2 separate regions of the Homo sapiens genome follow, and region 1 is linked to region 2. The links come from fine-mapping of genetic effects on gene expression. Tissue or cell type: whole blood. Region 2 holds a variant in brackets; the other region holds the start of a gene. All regions are shown on one strand. Distances are from middle to middle. Region 1 holds the start of CLXN (calaxin). Region 2 has its middle 27 kb from the start of CLXN.

Region 1 (5,385 bases), 26 kb after region 2:
GTCATTTCCTCAACAGTTTCCAAAGGCCTTCATCATAAAAGGTCCACATTAAGGAAAACAATTTCATCAAGTCAAGGTCCAAGCTGTTTATCATGGCAACAATCCAGTGAATGCTGAGTCAAAGGGAAGATTGTTTTGCACACAAAACTAAAGGAAACATAGCATTAATAGTCACTTTAATGTACTTCTGTGTTTACAAAGTTATTCATCTTGAGGTTGCTTGGATTTTTGGAAAGTTCTATGATCATTTCATGCACAGTAAAATTTATGTCCAATACGAATTAAACACAATCCTTTATTATTCCATTATTGATTGATTTAATATGAAGTAGCCTCTTAGGCTTAATTGCCTTACTCTGAGAAAGCTCTTGGGGGAAAGCAGTCCTGTGTCTACTCAGCATAAGCAACTAAAACTACAAATAGAAACTTCAACTTGCTTTGAAATGTTATTCACTGACTCAATCAGGCCTGCAACTTGTTTCTAAAGTCTAAAAATATTAAGTTCCAAAACTTCACAAGAATGTAATGAAAGCTCTGAAGTTTACCCGTATGTTGACAAAACATACTCCAAATAAACATTGTGCTTTCCCTGAAAAAGATGATAAGACCTTATTGTAAGGTCAACTCTGCAAATCACTCTCTTAGATAAGTGAGATTCACAAAACAATGCATTTGCATAGATAGATAGAAAGATAGATAGATAGATGATAGATAGATAGATAGATAGATAGATAGATAGATAGATAGATTGGTTGATTTTTTTGGCTAAAAGAACTGCATGGAAGAAAGAACTGGAGGATAAAAGAAGTGGAAGAGGAGGAGGTGACTTACAAAGTTTGCTCAACAGGTTAAGGAGTTTTGGCCCGGCATATTTTAATTTCAACAATCTGTGATATTGCCCCTACATCTTTTTATTATTTTTTTAACTTTAAGGGAACATGGCTGATGGGCTCTAGGCCTTAAACTCGTGAAGGAATAACTAATTAGCTTACCTATAGCAAGCACCCGGTGTATGCGATCTCCCCAGGCCACCAGAAATAACCACCAATGTGCTCACCAACAGCGCAGGCCTGCTCCCCAACACAGGCCTAGTACATCAGGTGGGGAGCCCACAGCGTCTCTTAGTAATTACTGACAACCACTCTTTCGGTTCCTTGTCTCTTGAAGTGAGCAGTGCAGCAATCTCTAGGAATTAAGTATTTGCTACAGCTCTGTGATCCAACAGAAATCAATAAGGTGTCACAGGTAAGTATAATTCAAATATGTCCAGTCTTTCCCTTTTGTTCTCTATGGTCTCAGGAATTTCACTCTTCTAGACAAGGGGATATGTAGAAACACTATTTAAAAATACTACTGTTACAAACTCATAATCACCATCAATTCATATCGGGTAACTGTTGTTAGGACATTTGCTTTAGGATAACACAGTCCATGCCTTTACCAAGCACCCTTTGCTCTAGTTTCAAACAGCATCCCAATCCTTCATTCCACAAACAAATGAAACAGTAAAGAAAAACCAGAGGCCTCGACATTGGAATTATTTCATTTGGGATTATTACTCATGGTTAGTAGAATTTTTCTGCCTTCAGTCTAAAAATGCCAGTATGTGTACAATAACATAGTTTGTCATTTTCCCCTCTGAAGTTAAACGAGCAGGCACTCTGGAGAATACTGTAGATTTGGTGATCCTGGCTGAGCCACCCCTTTTTATTGCTGCCTTAGCTGAAAGAGGATATCCCCTCTGTGATCAGGAAAAGCAGAAAGTCCTCCCACCCTGAAGATGTAAGGAATATCCTTTGTCTGCCGGCACAGAACTTGTCTTTCAAATAAGTAAAGGACCAAGGTTGCTGAGATATTTTCCGGAAAAGCAAGATTGGGCTGTACCCCACACCCAAGTGGTGTTGTCAGCCCGTTTTCATTGGGGGGAATGCCTATTTAAGCAGTATAAAAATTCCTCGTGGCTTTCCTCAGATTCCACAGACAACCTCCATCTTTTGGAAGTGAGATGAGGGCAGTGGGAAAAGAAAAAAACTACAGTCACAAGCCACATAGCGCCATTTAAGTCAACATCAGACAACATTAGGACAGTGGTCCCATAAGATGTAACACTGTACTGGAACACTGCACCTTCCCCAGAGTGCTTAGCACTCTGTTTTAGCTGCCTGCAGCATTCCGCGCTGTGACCTGCTGTGCAGGGGTGCAGCCCAGAAGCAATGGGTTGTACCATACAGCCTGGCGTGCAGTAGGCAAGGCCATCTAGGTTTGTGTCGGTGCACCGTGATGTGCACACAGTGATGAAATCTCCTAGTGACCTCGGAACGCGTCCCGCTCCTTAGGCAACCCGTGGCTGTATTCCAATTTCCCCTTGCTCTCAGAAACACAACTAAAAGCTCGAAGACCTCAGGTGACAGACTGCCTCCTGTTACCTCACCAAGACTGAAAACCTAAGCAGTGGCTCCGCCCAAAGAGCAAGCTTCTAGCCCTCTGACGGGAGGCCCGGCAAGATCGTCCTCTGGACAGCACCTTGCTATTTTGTGACGCTGCTCCAGCCCCCAAGATGTCCAAGATCTTGGGCCTTCCCTTGAGGCGTGACGCTCACGACCCGAAACACCTCTCATACAGCGTGCACACCACATTTCAGATTTTAATGATTTACACTGCAATCAAGCAAAGAGGCTGCGAACTCAAAAGCCAGCAACAACTGAACATTTAAACTCCAACGTCAACAGTCAGAATACAGCCCTCAAGGCGGCCAGCTGGGACCCTGCCGGCGGCACCGCGCACCGAGAACCCAGCGCGAGCAGTCGCTGAGCCGATGGGCGGGGCCCAGCTGTAGCTTTGGCTACGTCGCGGGCAGCCTGGGAGCCAATCCGCGGCGGGCTGAGCCGTTGCCTTGGCTACACCGTCTGTTAGGGCCGCGCACGAGATCAGTAACTGAGACCTCACCGCGTTGACCCAGCACCAGGGCTCGCGGGGGTCCCGCGAGGGTCTCGGTAGCCGCGCGCCCAGAGACCCCCGCCGCGGCCCGATTCTCTGAGCGCCAGACATGAACCGCAAGAAACTGCAGAAGCTGACGGACACCTTAACCAAAAATTGCAAGCATTGTAAGTAAGAATGTAGTGCTGGACAGGCCGAGGCTCCTGGACCGAGCCTGGGTCCCACCCCGTGCTAAGGTCCGCTGTTGTGCCTGCTTCCCGCCTGCTGGGACTCTGTGGGCTACCTACCGCCCCTCCACCCCGGCCCCTTAAGCAGAAGTCAGAGAGGGAATCCCGGGGTGCCAGCTCCTTGCGTTTGATCTTAGGAACCCAGGCCTCCGCCTCTGGTGCTACCTACACTCCCACACATGCATTTACTTGCTTCTCCAACCCTCTTCTTTTACCTGATAGAAACATGTGATGTTAGCCTCAATGAGGTGTAAAATAAATGCTAAAACCAACTGGTCTCAAGAAAAGTAGCACCACCAAGGTAGACCGTGCACTCACCCTGCTTTATAGCTCGCACATACACCCGCAGGTCCAAGTTCTGGAAGCTTACCAAGAGACCCATAGGAGAAAACGGTGCTCAACTTCTCAACATCTTTCGGAGAGATGAGTTGTGTCATCTCATCTGTGCCTCAGAACAATATTTGTTTGGAAACCAGAGTTCAGCACAACTAAACACGTGGTAAAGAATGGGTTCCCAACTTTAGACTCCCACTTTCCAGTGGCCCCTGGTGTTGAAAGATAAAGGAGACTTTGCAGGTGACAAGATGAGCCCTATTTGAAGGCACCTGCTCTAATCTCGCATTTGAAAGGGTGGTCCTAGAATTTCATAGGAAACTTTGAGTTTATATTCAGACTGAAAAACATAATTGCACTTTAGCAAGGAAGCCGTGGGTATGGTTTAGATGAGGAAGATAATTTCCTGTCGAGCAAACTTAGAAGTTGTGTGTGCTAATTGCAAAACTACTGGCCACTTGAAGAAACAGAAGCAACAATCCCCCAAATAACCGAGTCGCTCAAAAAAGAAGGAATAAACATGTTGATGTAGTTTTAGAGATTGTAAGATCTAGTGCATTCTAATTATCATTAGTATCTGATTTAATACCTGGTAAGAAATGCTCTCTTAGTGGATGGTGATATAAATGAATATTATGGTGTGTGTACGCATCTTAAAATGTTTAGGAAAAAAATCCTGTAATTTAAGATATTATTATGACTACTATACTCTGATGAGGGTTTTGTTCTGTTATTGTTTTTCTTAAAACACTTTCATTTCTGGGAGAATAGGTATTCTTCTAGTAAACATCTAGTAAACATTTTTGATAAATATTCAAAAACAATGCAATAGCTGCTATACACAATACTGATTTTGTCCCTTTCCGTAAGTTTGAATTTGATTTAGTCTCTGTTCGGTAAGTTTGAATGCATTGCAGACAATCATTCTGTGAACAATCAAAAGGTGAGTGTATATTTTTAAAGGTAAGTAAAAATATGGCAGGAAAAAGTCTGCTCTTGATTTTTTTGTTTACTAAAAAATTTTCAATGAGTCTTACAAACTTAGATGATTATTAGTTAAAGTCTATAGAAATAGTTATACGTCATGGACATTATAATAATTTTAAATTTTCTTTAACGGAAGAACTTTCCCCTAAAGTTAAATTTTGTTTTAGTTGCAAGACAATAAAGCTATCAAGATTCAATGGATAAATTTTGTAGAATCAAAGAAGAGTGAAAGATCTTAAGAGAACATCTAGTTCATGCACTGTTCTACAGATATGTTCTGCAGGACACATTCACAGCATTCCAAGAAGATGAAAACCTATTCTTGAATTTTCTTGTTTCATTTAGTATTGTATTCTAGAATTTAAGAAATGTTTAGCAATAAAAGTTTTCTTATGGCTAACCTTTGATCCTTTGGGTAATAAATTAAACTAGTTTTTAAAAATTTTTATTTCAGCTGAGATGGAAAAATGGCTAACCAACATCCCCTCTGCTACCATTTTATGTACATGAACAGAGTACATCATTCTTCATGCAGGCTTTTCTTCCGCAACAACTAACAGCTCTTGCTTTTTAGGAGGTTTGTGTGTGTGTGTGTATGTGGTTACATATAACATGAAATTTACTATTTTAACCATTTTAAGTGCTTAATTTCATGGCATTAAGTACATTCACACTGTTCTGCTTGCAACACCACCATCCACCTCCGTAACTTGTTCATTGTTCCCAGTGGAAACTCTACCCATTAAATGTTAACTCACCATTCCCTCCTCATCCTAGTCCCTGGCAACTATCATTCTACTTTGTCTCTATAAATCTGACTAAGTACCTTATATAAGAGGAATCATACAATATGTGTCCTTTTGTGTCTGGCTTATTTGACTAAGTGCAATATCCATAAATG
Region 2 (5,385 bases):
GCCCAGTAGAAATGTCCAGGGGAAAGTCTGCTTTACAAAGAGCAAGTTGAATTTTCCAGCCATGGATGTGAGTGAAAGCTTTTCTCTCTCTCTGTTTTTTTTTTTTTTTCTTTCTGGGTTCCATGGAAGAGTCTCCAGAGCACAGATTCTTATCCAAGCAAGAAAAAGAGAGTGTGTGAGAGGCCTTCACGAGCAAGGCCTGTGGGTTTGGGCCAGGAACAGGAATTCCCCTCACAGACACTGAGTCGGCAGCCTGAGACAGGAGTGGCGGCTCCACAGAAAGCCACTCTGTTCACTGCCACCAAGGACTGCTTGCAGGGCACACACACAGAGCTGCGGAAAGAAGGGATATTTGAAAAGAGTGTTTTTTTTCCCTAGAATACACAGTGCTCTTATTTCCTTAGGGGTGCAGTAAAAACTAGCCATGAATAAATGGCCAAACGCAGCTAAGAGTCAGCAAGGATGTTTATCTCTACAGCCTGGGGCTGCTGGGATGGGTCGCTGGGACAAACTTTGAATACGTCAATAAATCATAATGAAAGATTAAAATAAGAAAGAATTTGCTAAACATGTCTGGAAGGAGGCTTTTATGCTGCTATTTTTTCCCTACCAACTGCTGCTCAGAGACTTCACTAGGCTTTTTGAATGCAACAGAAAATGTGTATGTGTTGGAGGTAGGAGGCAAAAAAAAAGGGGTGGGGAGGCAGTTCATACTTGGAGCTTTGGTTTACATGGATTTTTGAGGTCAAAGAAAATCCAGTTGCTAAATCTAAGTGCAGATGTTATATTAAAATTAAACAAACAAAAAAACAAGAACCTATCCTCAGAATATGTGAATTCTTAGCAAAAGGATCTATTGCAATACATCATTTGTTTTCTATTTCAATAAAATTTAAGAATCAGTTTTCTTTTAGAAAGCAGAAAAAAAACCATCAATCGTTTCAAAAATTATGAAATATCCTTATGAGTACAGGAACTGTTGGATAGCCGTGGGCTCTAAGAAGCCAGCAGCTATCCCAGTGCACAGGAACACATGCCCCAGGCCCTCTGTCTCCTTTATTGTGAGAGAAAAATACCCTATTTGCTTCAAGCAGGAGGTTGAGCAGAACAAGAGTGAGAGGGCTTCTCTCACTTAGGAGCCATCTTTTCCTGAAAGCTGGCCTAACCCCCCTTGAACACCCAGCATAACGTCTACCTCAGGCAGCCGGCCTCCATGGGCAACCTGGGCCTGGCTGACCTCTGAATCCAGGGGCAGCAGACAGGTAGGTGTGGTGCTGTGTCCTCCATTGAAATGGGCTGTCTCAGAATCCTAAGTTATGAGCCGAACCCGAATTGTGTCCCCTAAAAACGCACATGTTGAAGCCCTAACCCCCAGATCCTCATGCTGTGACTGTATTTGACAGAGCCTTAAAGGAGATAGTTTAGGTAAAATAACATCATTAAGGTGGGTCCTAATTCAATATAACTGGTGGGTTTGGTTTTTGTTTTTTGTTTTTTTGAGACAGAGTCTCACCCCATTGCTCAGGCTGGAGTGCAATGGTGCGATCTCTGCTCACTGCAACCTCCACCTCCCAGGTTCAAGCGATTCTCATGCCTCAGCCTCCCGAGTAGCTGGGATTACAGGCACGCACCACCACACCTGGCTAATTTTTTTTGTATTTTTATTAGAGACAGGGTTTCACCATGTTGGCCACAGTGGTCTCGAACTCCTGACTTCAGGTGATGCACTCACCTCGGCCTCCCAAAGTGCCGGGATTACAGGCATGAGCCACTGCACCTGGCCAGCTGGTGTTTTTATAAGAAGTGATGAGGAGATAAGTATACACAGAGGGAAGACCATGTGAAGACACAGGATAAGACGGCCGTCTGCAAGCCACAGTGAGAGGCCTCGGGAGAAACCAATCCTGCTGACACCTTACCCTTCAACTTCCGGCCTCCAGAACTCTGAGGAAATGCACTTCTGTTGTTTGAGCCCCTCAGTGTGCGGCGCTTTCTTATGGCAGCCCTTATAAACTAATACAGCTTCTTATGCCTCAATGACACATACATTCACGCCTTGAGCAAAAGAGGAACTCAAAGCCTGTTTGTTGGTATATCAGTTTCAATTAACCCATGGGAAGCCAGGAAAAAAGACACACAC[C/A]CCCCCAAAAAAAAATGAAAAACCAGAAAGAAAAATAAAATAGCAGGCTTAAGTTTAACAATTCAATAATTACATTAAATTTAGTTTAAGTAGTCTAAATATATGATTTAAAAAAGACAGGCAGGGCACAGCAGTCACACCTGTAATCCCAGCACTTTGAGAGGCTGAGGCAGAAAGATCACATGAGGCCATGAGTTTGAACCAGCCTGGGCAATATAGCAAGACCCCATATCTATAAAAAATTGTTAAAATTAGCCAGATGTGATGATATGCACCCACTGTTCCAGCTACTGACAAGGTTGAGGCAGGAGGATTGCTTGAGCCCAGGAGTTTCAAACTGTAATGAGCTATAGTCACTGTACTCCAGCCAGGGCTACAGAGGAAGACCCTGTCTGAAATAGTTAATTAATTAATTAAAATATATTGGCAGAGTGGATTGCAAAAACATAACCCAAGTATGTACTGCCTACAAGAAACTCACTTCAAATACGATGGTATAAGTAAATAGAAATAATAGGATGGAAAGGATATGGCACACAATCATTAATTAAAATAAATGAGGAATAGCTATATTAATATCAGATAAAGTTGACTTCAGAGCAAAGAAAATGACCAGTTACAGAGAAGTACATGACATAATGACAGAAGTGTCAAGCTACCAGGAGGCATAAAAGTTCTCAATGTGTGTATCAAACAACAGAGATGCATGTTACATGAAGCAAAATCTGATAGAACTGAAAAAAGAAATGGCAAACCCACAATTGCAGTGGGAGATTTCAACACATACCCTGCCTCAATATTTGATAGAACAACTAGACAGAAAACCACCATGAATATGGAAGAACTCAATACCATCTACCAACAAAATCTAGTCACCACACCAAGGGAGAGCATATCTTCCATCAGAAAACAAAACAAAACAAATTTAAAAGAATTGACATCATACAGCATGTCACTTACAATGGAACCAAAGTAGAAATCAATAACGGAAAATTATCTCCAAACTCTTGAAACTAATGACTACACCTTTAAATAATCCGTGGGTCAAAGAGGAAATCTCAGAAAAAGTAAAAAATACATCAAACTAAATGCAAATGAAACAACAACACGTCATAGACATAGAGTGTGTATCATGGGTCATTGAAGACTCAGAAGGATGGGTGGGTGCAAGGGGTGACAGGTGAGAAATTACCTCCTGGGTACAATGTACACTATTCAGGTGCTGGTTACACTAAAAGCCCAGACTTCACCACTACAAAATATATTCGTGTAACAAGACTGCACTTGTACCTCTTATATTTATACAAATTTTTTAAAAGAAGAAAAAAAGAAAAAATGTGAGACATAGCTAAAACAGTGCTGAGAAGGAAATTTATAGCACTAAATGCTTATATTAGAAAAGAGGGAAAATTTCAAATCAATAAGCTCCCATCTCAAGACCCTAGAAACCTAAGCACAGAGAAAGCAGAGGGAAGAAAAATAATGTAAAGGAACAGAAATCAATGAAATTAAAAACAGAACAAAAATAGAGAAAATCAATAAAGCAAAAAAAGCTTTTCTTTTGAAAATATCAACAAAATCGACAAACATTTAGTAAGATTTACAGAGAAAAAAAGAAAGGACACAAATTATCAAGTATCAGGAATGAAATAGAGAATATAACTGTAGACCCTGCAGAGAATAAAATGATAATACAGGAGTAAAATGAACAACTCTGCACAGAAAAATTTGACAACTTATATGAAATGGACAAATTCCTTGGCACAAACTACTACAACTCAACCATATGAAATATCTAATTTGAATAGCCTTATAACTAGTAAAACAATTCTATTTGTAACCAAAAGTATCCTAAAAAGGTAATCGTAGACACAGTTTCCATGGAGAATGCTACCAAACACTTAAGAATCAACAGCAGTTTCATATAATCTCCTCCAGAAAAAAGAAGGTACCAAGTCATTCCCAGGCAGAGAGAACCACTAAGTCTGAGCAAATGCCAGGATCCAAGAAGACATAGGTCCCCTGAGCCTCTCAGTTTCAGAACACACTGAGCTGAGCCACTGCTAACTGAAAGTAATCAGTGTGCGTTCAGAAAGACCAATAATAAATGTATACAATTACTATTTGTCAATTAAAAATAAAATTTTTAAAAAGACAGATGAAGAACAAGATACAGATCATCTCCAACTCATGATGATTTGATTTTTTGACCTTACAACAGGCTTATTGGGGTGGAGAATGCATTTTGACTTACAATATTTTCAACTAATGATGAGTTTATGAGACATAACCCCATCAAAATTAAAATAGGGCCCGGTAAGCATTTCAAAGTGAGTATATGCATAAAAATAACAAGAAAACAGAGTAGTCAGTGATAGGGTCTAAATAATAAATATTTTGGATTATAATACTTTTTTTAAATTTTATTATTATTATACTTTAAGTTTTAGGGTACATGTGCACAATGTGCAGGTTTGTTACATATGTATACATGTGCCATGTTGGTGTGCTGCACCCATTAACTCATCATTTAGCAATAGGTATATCTCCTAATGCTATCCCTCCCCACCCCACCCCACAACAGTCCCCGGAGTGTGATGTTCCCCTTCCTGTGTCCATGTGCTCTCATTGTTCAATTCCCACCTATGAGTGAGAACATGCAGTGTTTGGTTTTTTGTCCTTGCGATAGTTTGCTGAGAATGATGGTTTCCAGTTTCATCCATGTCCCTACAAAGGACATGATCTCATCCTTTTTCATGGCTGCATAGTATTCCATGGTGTATATGTGCCACATTTTCTTAATCCAGTCTATCGTTGTTGGACATTTGGGTTGGTTCCAAGTCTTTGCTATTGTGAATAGTGCCGCAATAAACAAACGTGTGCATGTGTCTTTATAGCAGCATGATTTTGGATTATAATACATTTTAACCAAATTTTGTGTCAGTTCTTTCAAGTAATTGCACATCTAGTAATTTGAACTGTTAGTTCACAAGAAGCTAAGGAGTAATTAATTCTACACTGTACTTAATGACATTGATTTGAATATAAGGCATATACGGAAGAACACAAAAATGTTATCTTTAATATGCTCTATGTCAGCTTCAAACCCTGCTTGTATTATGAATTTAAAGCAAGTAAGTCTTCAGATATATTACAAATGTAAATTGTAGCCAAGCTAAGGTATGTGATAAGATGGAGTGTAACGATGCATTGCAGCTATAAACACAAATAAAATTTTTGTTTGT

What was found. PIP is the estimated chance that this variant, and not a neighbour inherited with it, causes the effect.
Region 1: CLXN starts here. The variant in region 2 is the best candidate, but not a certain one, in a credible set for the expression of CLXN in whole blood (TOPMed, PIP 0.61).

Annotation. Positions count from the first base shown.
Region 1 is chr8:48,732,813-48,738,197 of GRCh38, reverse strand. CLXN (calaxin) reads left to right here and starts at 2,930. Exons shown (of 6, transcript NM_024593.4): 1 at 2,930-3,104. The coding sequence starts at 3,047. RefSeq lists an enhancer at 2,851-3,525.
Region 2 is chr8:48,759,119-48,764,503 of GRCh38, reverse strand. No RefSeq gene overlaps it. Among named protein-coding and RNA genes, the nearest start is that of CLXN, 27 kb to the right of the region's middle. The variant C/A (reference allele first, on the strand shown) is at 2,141.